2 linked regions of the Homo sapiens genome follow. The protein of the gene in region 1 interacts with the protein of each later gene in a pairwise test. Each region holds a gene or a part of one and is shown in the gene's direction. Other genes may lie near its edges.

What was found.
Region 2: the proteins of RNF135 (region 1) and CTNNAL1 interact in binary tests that used the Homo sapiens proteins (3 or more experiments, as listed by UniProt).

Annotation. Positions count from the first base shown.
Region 1 is NC_000017.11:30,994,983-31,000,653, forward strand, and holds the end of RNF135 (E3 ubiquitin-protein ligase RNF135), read left to right. Parts: intron 1-2,259; coding exon 2,260-2,349; intron 2,350-3,679; coding exon 3,680-4,209; 3' UTR 4,210-4,929; downstream 4,930-5,671.
Region 2 is NC_000009.12:108,941,833-108,947,553, reverse strand, and holds the end of CTNNAL1 (alpha-catulin), read left to right. Parts: intron 1-3,535; coding exon 3,536-3,592; intron 3,593-3,737; coding exon 3,738-3,851; intron 3,852-4,509; coding exon 4,510-4,593; intron 4,594-4,682; coding exon of another isoform or gene 4,683-4,700; exon of another isoform or gene 4,701-4,719; coding exon 4,720-4,785; 3' UTR 4,786-4,977; downstream 4,978-5,721. UniProt on the Homo sapiens protein: May modulate the Rho pathway signaling by providing a scaffold for the Lbc Rho guanine nucleotide exchange factor (ARHGEF1).

The DNA of each region.
Region 1 (5,671 bases):
CCCAGGCTAGAGTACTGTGGCACAACTATGGCTCACTGTAACCTCAATCCTCCTGCTTCAGCCTCCCCAGTAGCCAGGACTATAGGCCCACACCACCATGCTCAGCTATTTAAAGAATTGTTTTGGCCGGGACAGTGGCTTACGCCTGTAATCATAGCACTTTGGGAGGCCGAGGCGGGTGGATCACTAGGTCAGGAGATCGAGATCATCCTGGCTAACACGGTGAAACCCCGTCTCTACTAAAAATACAAAAAAATTAGCTGGGTGTGGTGGTGGGCGCCTGTAGTCCCAGCTACTCAGGAGGCTGAGGCAGGAGAATGGCGTGAACCCGGGAGGTGGAGCTTGCAGTGAGCTGAGATTGCGCCATCGCACTCCAGCCTGGGCGACAGAGCGAGACTCAGTCTCAAAAAAAAAAAAAGAATTGTTTTGTAGAGACAGGGTCTCATTATGTTGCCCAGGCTGGTCTGGAACTCCTCCTGGCCTCAAGTGAGCCTGCTGCCTCAGCCTCCTAACTAGCTGGGACTATAAGCATGGGCCACCATGCCTGGTTTCATGTTGCAGAATTGAAACTCTATACCCATTAAGCAACAATTCCACATTCCTTCAACCCCCTCCTACCTGGCAACCACTATTCCACTTTCTGTTCTATGAATTTGACTATTCTAGATACCTCATGTGAGTGGAATCATACAGTATTAGTGTGTGAGAGGTTTATTTCACTTAGCATAATGTCCTCCAAGCTCACCTATGTTGTAGCATATATCAGAATTTGTTACTTTTTTTTTTTTTGAGACGGAGTCTTGCTCTGTCACCCAGGCTGGAGTGCAGTGGTGCGATCTTGGCTCACCGCAACCTCTGCCTCCCGGGTTCAAGCAATTCTCCCACCTCTGCCTCCCTAGTAGTAGCTGGGATTACAGGCATGTGCTACCACCCCTGACTAGTTTTGTGTGTGTGTGTGTGTGTGTGTATTTTTTAGTAGAGATGGGGTTTCGCCATGTTGGCCAGGCAGGTCTCGAACTCCTGACCTCAGGTGATCCGCCCGCCTCAGCCTCCCAAAGTATTGGGATTACAGGCGTGAGCCACCACGCCCAGGCAGAATTCATTACTTTTTTTTTTTTTTTTTTTTGAGATGGAGTCTCACTCTGTTTCCCAGGCTGGAGTCAGTGGTGCGATCTCGGCTGACTGCAAACTCCGCCTCCCAGGTTCAAGTGATTCTCCTGCCTCAGCTTCCCAAGTAGCTGGGATTACAGCCATGTGTCACCACACGCAGCTAATTTTTGTATTTTTAGTAGAGATGGGGTTTCACCATATTGGCCAGGCTGGTCTTGAACTCCTGACCTTGTGATCTGCCTGTCTTGGCCTCCCAAAGTGCTGGGATTACAGGTGTGAACCACTGCGCCCAGGCAGTATTCGTTACTTTTTAAGGCTAAATAATATTCCATTGTATGTATATATCACATTTCTTTATCCATTTTTCTGTCTCTGGACACAGGGATTGCTTCAGTTCCGAGTTGAATTTTGAGACTGGCCTCTTTACAGGCAGCTCTCTTGCTCTCATGACCTAAGTTACCACAGGCACACCCTAGACAAGGTCTTTCATCTCTTCTCAGGTGGAGTCTTAGATTCACTGCAGCTGCTGTCACTTCAAGATACAAGTAGGACAAGATTTTGCCTTCAAAGTCTGCACTCTAGGACTTCCCTTACTTATCATCTGCCTGACGTGGTCATTGCACTCTAGCACACATGACTGCTTTAAGTTAATAATTAAACTTTAGCACATCGAGAGGGAATTAGGAGGTGTCAGCAATGGTGATGAATCTCACCCCAACTCATGTTACCCAGTTTATGTAACAACAGTTTAAAACATTGACTTGGGGGTCCTGGATATTCTAGGTGTTAGGGTGCTGCAATCCCCTGGAACTGTATTAGTTGATTTTATTTCATGAGTGTGCATAAAACACCTTCTATCTATGGGACTGGCATGGGGCTTGGTGCTTAGAACATATAGATGAACAAGATCTTTGCTAGCAAGGAGCTGAGAGCTTAGTGAAGAAAGAGTGAAAAGTCCACAGTGAGAACATGGAGGTGCACATACCTGGGCTGCAGGCACACTGCCTCTGCCTGATCCAGTCCTGACACTGAAAAATGTGTAGATGATAAGAAGACAAGCCAGCCATGTGCCTTGACCATGATGTTTGGAGACCTTCAGTTTGCCTTTTTCTGATGGGACTTTCCTCTGTTAATTTTTTTGTTACTTAGGAGAACTCCTGGAAGCCCCGTCTTCCTCCTCATGCCCATTGCCTGACCAGAGCCACCCTGCACTCAGGAGAGCTTCTCGGTTTGCTCAGTGTAAGTATGTGGTCCACTTTAAACATGGGTTTGGCTTGCCGCAGAGCGGGCTTCGAGAATATCCTACATCCATCTCCCTACTGCTAGGGCCACTCCTTGGCTTACTGCACATGGATTTGTTCCAGGTCCCTCCACGGGGGGAGCTGATTGCAAAGGCAAAGCAGGTTGAGACTCTAGACCCAAGAGCACTCAGAGTCCCGCCAACCTTTGAGCATCTCTGCTGTGGCCACCAACTACAGCCAACTGCCTGTTCCCAAACCTGCTGAGGTATTTCTGCATCTGTGCTGTGGCCACCAACTATAGCCAACTGCCTCTTCCTAAACCTGCTGAGGTATTTCTGCCATCTCAGTCTGGGATAGTCCTTAAGAGCATGGATCCCAGAGCCAGACTGCTTGGGTTTGACTCCCAGCAGCTCCACTAACTAGCTGTGTGATCTTGGGCAAGTCACTTAAGCTTCCTAGAGCCTGGGTTTCCTCATCTGTAAAATGGAGATAATATAGTACTTCTCTTGCGGGATTGCCATGAGGGTTAAGTGAGTGAGTATGAGTAAAACACCTAGAGTAGTCATGCTGTATAAGTGTTAGCAATTTATTCACTCAATAGGAAACCAAATGAAATATACAAAGTGAGTAAGACATGGTCCTCAATCAGGAAGTTTCAGTTTAACTGGGAAGGTATAAACAGCTGTGGTCATAAATCACCATAAGACGGGCGTGAGCCACCGCACCTTGCCTACGCCCAGCTAATTTTGGTATGTTTAATAGAGACAGGAGTTGGCCATGATGGCCAGGCTGGTCTTGACCTCCTGGCCTCAAGTGTTCCACCTGCCTCAGCCTCCCAAAGTGCTGGGATTACAGGGGTAAGCCAGTGCACCTGGCTGAAGGAGCTGGCCTGATTTTTAAAATTGACATATAATAATTGTATAGTCTGGGTGCAGTGGCTCATGCCTGTAATTGCAGCACTTTGGGAGGCTGAGATGGCAGGATTGCTGGAGCTCAGGAGTTCGACACCAGCCTAGGAAGCATGGCAAAATCCTGCTTCTTTTCTAAATAAATTTTAAAAATAAATAAATATAATAAGTGTACATATTTATGGGATACATAGTGATGTTTCAATACATATGGTGCATAGTGATCCGATCAAGGTAGTTAGCATATCTATCATCTGAAACATTTATCATTTCTTCCTGTTGGGTGATGTAGCAATTTTAATGCTAGTGTGAGTGAAACATCACACCAAAAGATACAAAGTTGCTATTTGAAGACTTCTTAGCATGGACCATCAAAAGATGACCGGCCATGTTCTTATTGTTCTTTTTTTTTTTCCAAAGGGGCCATCCATCCAACCTTTAACTTGAAGAGCCTTTCCTGCAGCCTGGAGGTGTCCAAGGATTCCCGTACAGTGACTGTGTCTCACCGCCCACAACCCTATCGCTGGAGCTGTGAGAGGTTTTCTACCAGCCAGGTCTTATGTTCCCAGGCCCTGTCTTCTGGAAAGCATTACTGGGAAGTGGACACTAGGAATTGCAGCCACTGGGCAGTTGGGGTGGCTTCCTGGGAGATGAGCCGCGACCAGGTCCTGGGAAGGACTATGGACTCTTGTTGTGTGGAATGGAAGGGGACTAGCCAGCTCTCTGCATGGCACATGGTCAAGGAAACTGTCCTTGGCTCAGACAGACCTGGGGTGGTGGGCATCTGGCTGAACCTTGAGGAGGGAAAGCTTGCCTTCTATTCAGTGGACAATCAGGAGAAGCTTCTGTATGAGTGTACCATCTCTGCCTCCTCTCCTTTGTACCCTGCCTTCTGGCTGTATGGCTTACATCCTGGAAATTACCTGATAATAAAGCAAGTAAAGGTGTAAGGTTTCCTAAGGGATTACAACACAGTGGTTTCCTGGTCTCTCTCCCTGTCATCAATCAGGGTAGTAACTTGACTTAAGAATACCACTTTTTAGAAAAATTACGATAGAGATGGGATCTCACTAGGTTGCCCAGGCTGGTGTCGAATTCCTGGTCTCAAGCAGTCCTCCCACCTCAGCCTCCCAAGGTGCTGGGATTACAGGTGTGAGCCACCACACCTGGCCAAGAATACCACTTTTGAAGTTAATCCTTTTGTGTGATACAGGATGAACTTGGGATGTTTGAACCCTGGACATTCCAAATAAAGAATAGGCCCCTGCCTGGCTCCTGGGAGATAACCTCTAAGCCATTAGAATATCTTGCCTGATAAGAGTGTTTTTGTTTACCTGTGGGCCTTGGGCCATGCAGTATCAGCTTGACCTTGCAAGGTCAAGCTGAGGAGACTAAGTTAGCCATGTGGGCAGTGAAGCATGCCAATGTGATCAATCCCTAGTAAAAGCCCTGGACACCTAGGCATGGGTGAGCTACTCTGGTTGGTAATACTCTGTGCACACATCATTGTAGCCACACATCATTGCTGGGAGAATTAAGCATTATCCTGAAGACTCTGCCAGGAGAGGATAATTGGAAGTTCTCTTGGACCTTACCTTATGTGCCTTTCTTCATTGCTGATTTTAATCTGTATCCTTTCACTGTAATAAACTGTAACTATGAGTGCAACACTTTGCTGAGTTCTGTGAGTCCTTCTAGTGAATCACTGAACCTGAGGGCAGTCTCAGAGGATCTCTAAACATAATTTGCTACTTATCAGTTGCTATGTAAGAATATTGCCACAAATTTAATGGTTTAAAATAACACATAGATATTATTTCACAGTTTCTGTGAGTCAGGAGTCAGAGCATAGCTTAGCTGAGTCTCCTACATCAGAGTTTTACAAGCTGCAATCAACATGTCAGCTGGGGACACAGGGTCATCTGAGGCTCCAATGGGGAAGGATCTGCCTCCAAATTACATGGTCATTGGCAGCCTTCAGTTCTTGAGTTGCCGGACTGAGGGCCTCAGTTTCTTTCTGGTTGTTGGCTGGAGACCGCCCTCAGTTCCTTACCCCATAGGCCTTTGCAACACAGCTGCTTGTTTCCTCAAAGACAATAAGGGAGAGGGTCTCCTAGCCAGATGACGCAAAATCTTTTTTTTTTTTTTGAGACGGAGTCTCACTCTTGATGCCCAGGCTGGAGTGCAGTGGTGTGATCTGGGCTCACTGCATCCGCCGCCTTCCAGTTTCAAGCAATTCTCCTGCCTCAGCCTCCCGAGTAGCTGGGATTACAGATGTCTGCCACTACGCCCGGCTAATTTTTTTTTTGTATTTTTAGTAGAGATGGGGTTTCACCATGTTGGCCAAGCTGGTCTCGAACTCCTGACTTCGTGATTCTCCCGCCTCAGCCTCCCAAAGTGCTGGGATTACAG
Region 2 (5,721 bases), on another chromosome or scaffold:
GATCCCCATGTTAGCCTGTTTGCCTCTCTAGAACCAAGAGCATTCTTGTGTGTAAATTTGAAATTTCTGTCACTTTATCACTCATATAGTCTCCTTTGGCATTCCCATGTACATCTGAGATTTGAAATTTCTATCACTTTAGGCCAGGCGCGGTGGCTCACGCCTGTAATCCCAGCACTTTGGGAGGCCAAGGTGGGTGGATCACGAGGTCAGGAGATCGAGACCATCTTGGCTAACACGGTGGAACCCTGTCTCCACTAAAAATACACAAAATTCGCTGGGTGTGGTGGCGGGCACCTGTAGTCCCAGCTACTTGGGAGGCTGAGGCAGGAGAGTGGCGTGAACCCGGGAGGCGGAGCTTGCAGTGAGCTGAGATCACGCCACTGCACTCCAGTCTGGGTGACAGAGCAAGACTCCATCTCAAAAAAAAAAAAAAAAGAAAGAAATTTCTATCACTTTATCACTCATATAGTTTTATTTGGCATTCTGTGGGAAAGGGATTTCAGCTTAAGAGGATGATTGTCAACATAATCAGAAGTATTATAGAAAATGTGTCTTCTGGATTTTTCTGTAAAGCAGACTATAAATGAGCTATTTCCCTTAAGATAGTTGAAATTCTGAATTTATTTTTTTTTTCAGTTTGGCCCAAGTCCATTCTGTCATACCGCCCTGTAGGGGTGTTTTACTACAAAAGATCCACTACTTACCTTCTTCCTATGTGAGCTTAGTCATTAAATCAATGTTCAATGAATTGTCTCCAAACTGTGATGAACATAAAATTGCATACTTCATTCAACAAATATTTATTGAACTTGTGCTATATGTCAGATCTGGGAGAACAGAGCTCTGTGGAGAAAAGTGAACAAAGCAAAGCTCCTGCCCCCATAGAGCTTATGTTCTAATGGCAGAATATAGACAATAAGAATTTAAGCATTCAGTGCACATATGTAAGTACTTGGAGATAAAATCACGTACGACTAGAATACAGAGGTGATAGAGGGGTGGTCAGAAAAGACCTCTCTAAGGAGCCAGTGTTTGAATAGAGACAGTAATGAAGTGAGAGTTGGATGGATAAATGTGGGTAGAGGATTTTAGATAGCCAAAACAAGTGCAAAGCCCCGAGGTGCAGGGGTAGGGCTGGGTGTATCAGAAGAGTAAGGAGGCAATTATTGATGGGAGTGAAGTGAGCCAGAAGGAAAGGGGTAAAATATGATGTCTCTGTAGGCCATGGGAAGGACTTTTTTTTTTTTTTTTTTGAGACTTAGTCTCGCTCTGTTGTCAGGCTGGAGTGCAGTGGCACGATCTCGGCTCACTACAGCCTCCGCCTCCCGGGTTCAAGTGATTCTTCTGCCTCAGCCTCCCGAGTAGCTGGGACTACAGGTGTGCGCTACCACGCCCAGCTAATTTTTGTATTTTTAGTAGAGACAGGGTTTCACCATGTTGGCCAGGATGGTCTCGATCTCTTGACCTTGTGATTCGCCCGCCTCAGCCTCCCAAAGTGCTGGGATTACAGGCCTGAGCCACTATGCCCAGCTGATCCTATTATGTTTTAAGTAAGGTTTTTGGCTTGGCCAACAGAGTGAGTGGTAGTGCCATTTTCTGAGACAGGGAACACTGAGGGAGAACACTAGATTTAGAGGGTGGAAATCGAGCATTTTGTTTTGCACATGTTAAGTACAAAGGTCAGATAGGATATACACTTGGCCCTCCCTATCTGCAGGTTTTGCATCTGCAGATTCAACCAACTATGGATTGAAAATATTCAAAACAGTAAAAACAGTCTGGGCACAATGGCTCACTCCTGTAACCCTAGCACTTTGGGAGACCAAGCTGGGAGGATCACTTGAGTCCAGGAGTTTGAGACCAGCTGGGGCAACATAGTGAGACCTTGTCTCTACAAAAAAACAAAACAAAAAAAAAAAAAACTAGCGGGGCATGGTGGCACACACCTGTAATCCTAGCTACTCAGGCAGCTGAGGCAGGAGGATCGCTTGAGCCTGGGAGGTCAAGGCTGTAGTGAGCTGTGATCACACCACTTCACTTCACTCTGGACAACAGAGTGAGACCCTGTCTCAAAAAAAAAAAAAAAAGGAAGAAAACCAATAAAATATAACAACAGTAAAAAAAAACAAAATACATTTTAAAAGGTTAGAGTTCCAAGGGAGGGAAAACAATACAGTATAACTGCGATTTACTTAGCATTTACATTAACTTAGATATTATAATTTAGAGATGAGATGATTTAAAGTTTATGGGATGATGTGTGTAGGTTATATGCAAATACTACACTGTTTTATTTAAGGGACTTAAGCATCTACAGATTTTGGTATCCTTGGGGAGGTCTGGGAACCAATCTCCCATGGATACTGAGGGATGACTGTACAAGACTGATGTCAGGATAGTTCAGGAGTGGAGAGAGAGACCTGGGAGTTACCAGCTTTCAGGTAGTTTTAAAACCATCATACTGTATGAGACAGACATGGATTTTGTCCCCAAGGGGTTTGCAGGCTAGAAGGAAAGAGAAAATTTGCAGAATAGAAAGTGGTAACATGAAGTGATAAGGAACACTTGGGGAAGTGAATCATTTCATTTGGTTGGAGTCTAGATGTAAAGCTTACTGGTTTCCCTTTTAAAGGGAAGGTTGCAAAGTACGATTTGACCTTGAGATCATTTTATCCAGTGATAGCAAGGTGTTAAGCCTTTTGAATAGAGGGTAAAAATTAACCCTGGAATTATTGCCTCCTCCTTCTTAGTATTCTTTAATTTATTATGAAGACCTATTATTTTCATTCACAAACCACTCTCAGATTTTCCCTGTTCTCTCCATTATTACTGACGCCACCTAAAACTAAGCCTTCCTCCCTTTACTCCCCTGGCATCTCACTCTAAAATAGTCTGCAAACCATTTTAACATAATATGCTAAATACTTCTGTCTTACCTGTACAACCTTCTTTTTCACTCTACTTCTCCATCATCCTGTTCATCTCATTAAATTATAGAATTCATGGTACATGGTGAATAGTGAAAATTAATCTGAAAAAAAGTGGCAACAAAAACCAACCACCTGGATTGGTTCTCTCAAATGTCTGGTTATGGAATATGTATGGGTGACAAATTTTGTCTTGCCTAGATGGAATTGGGAAGGTCCTAACCCTTTTGACCTCATGCTTGAAAATTCATCATCCTTTTATAATTGAGCATATTTGAGATGAGCTCTAGGTCCCTTGCGTAATCTAGACATAATTTGTGTGGCTGAATATCACAGGTCTGTGTGACCCTCCAGAATAATTGGAGGTCTGGTGTAGAGAAGCCTCTCCAGGGATGGATTCTGCATCTGGTCTGTGGAAACTCCTTCTGAAAACAGTTAAACCCTTGTGCATTCCTGGTACTGGAAAAAGTTTAGGAGTTCCTGACAGACTTTTTATATCTAGGCTTTATTTTTAAAATTCTACGTAAAAATTATTAGTAAGTATATTTCTTACCAACTATCCATAGACATCAGTCTAAAATAGTGGTGTTTTCTCTTTCTACCAGGTTTTTGCTGCAGAGGGTTTAAAGCTTACTTCCAGTGTTCAAGCTTTTTCAAAACAGGTAACACATGTCTACCTACCTGGAGCTGGTGGTGGTATTATGTATAACCTACTTTGGGGGTATAATATCAATGTATAAATGTGTTTAAGGTATTAAAGATGGAGTTTTGTTGCGGGCTGTTATAACTTGTTAAATTACATTTCAGCTGAAAGACGATGACAAGCTTATGCTTCTCCTGGAAATAAACAAGCTAATTCCTCTATGCCACCAGCTCCAGACAGTAACTAAGACTTCTTTGCAGAATAAAGTATTTCTAAAGGTAAAAGAGACATATGAAAAACTTTCACACATCTATCTTTATCTGGTTAAAGCCCCTTTTTCTTCAAATAAACTGTTAGTACCCACAGAAGGGCAATTTATTTCCTTTTTTCATGCCTTGTCTACAAGAATCATTTATTATCTACTCTCATAACTGACCCCAGAGAGTAGCAGATTCACCAAATAAAGTAGTTTTTTGGACATCATTAATTCCATAGCACTGAACAGCTGCCCTTCAATTCTGAAGTCATTACCTCTGCAACTAGGACACAGGTGCCTCCGAGTCTGGTCTCCCATAATTTGTCTGAGAGAATATGGGTTTGTGCCCACAAAATAGAGTGCAAGGAATTGCAAAGGATGGGATTTAATTCCACTATTTGGAGTGTTTTGAGAAGCCCCTAAACAGCCTGCAGTAGAATGATTAATTTTCCACCCACTCTTTCTGCTGGGGTTCCATGAGATAGACATGAAATCTAGGCAGCTACCCCTGCACCTGTGTCCTGGGGCTTTGAGTCAGCTCATGTGCCTAAATCCATATCTCTTTCAAGATCCCTTAGATTTCCATATGGAGAAATTTTATCATGTTAAAACTAAATAAATGGTAAGGTCTTTTAAGTACTACTTTTAGAATATCATTTGCATGCTTTTTGTCATTGTAGGTTGACAAGTGTATTACGAAGACAAGATCCATGATGGCTCTCTTAGTCCAACTTCTTTCACTTTGTTATAAACTGCTGAAGAAGGTGAGGTAGTTTTTCTATTTTAGACTCATACTTTAAAAAATGGTTTAAAAGAAAATAGTTACTACTTAATTTTGTAATTTTTTTTTCAGAGTGAAACCAGATACTAATTGTCTTAACTCTTTCCAGCTTCAGATGGAAAATAACGGATGGGTCTCAGTTACAAATAAGGACACTATGGATAGTAAAACTTGAGAAGCTTTTGGGGTCAGATCTCTGGAACATCATGTGATGAAGCTGACATTTTTAAAAATCAAATGATCCTTTATCTTTTCAGAAATTCATCAATTTTATAAAGAAAACAATATTGAAATTTTGCTCTATTTTCTGATCATGAAACTGATTGTAAAGCTTTTTGACAACTAATAAATGTCTTGGTAATTGCTAGATTCTAATTGTAGTGTGATTTTTAAAATAGAACATTGCACTAATGTTCTTTAAAAGTCAAACCAAATATCCCAACTGTCTCAAGGACAATTTAATCCACAAGAAGCTATTTTGAATATGTGCTTAGCTTTGGCATATTTTACCTTAACTGTTTTCTTTATCATCTAGATCACTAATGTCAGCAGCAAACATACAGTAGTCTGGGTGAATGCAGGGTTTTCCTTAAACCTGTGGACTCTTCAATCCCTCTGTTTACCAAGTGTGACAAAAATCCCCTTGATGACCCTGTCCCAGATTGTCCATGCCAGCAGCAAGTTTGTTCCCTAATAAGCATTTTGTACAGCAAGGGTGGGTCTGCTGTGCTGTGTATGTCCCTCACCTACTCCCAAAAGTAAGGTAATGGAACTCCACAGAATCCTGGAACAACTCCTGGAGAGTATGAGATGGGTTTTTGGTTCTAGTTCTAGCATAGCTGGCCAGTCTGCCCTGAATATTAGCTGGGATTCTAAGCCTATCTTATAGACTTAAAAGATATTTTGAACTTTCTCAGTATTGATTGATGGAATGGAAGACAAAGACAGAATAAGGAAGCCAAGAATCTATTTAAATTCTGAATATCACACATTTGAAATGTTCACTATAAAACAAAACAAAAAACATCTTTCTTTAGTCTTTTTAATTTAGGAGTTTAAAGCTTTTCTTGTTTTTGTGGGTGGGGTCATGATTGAAGGATCTGGTTTATAG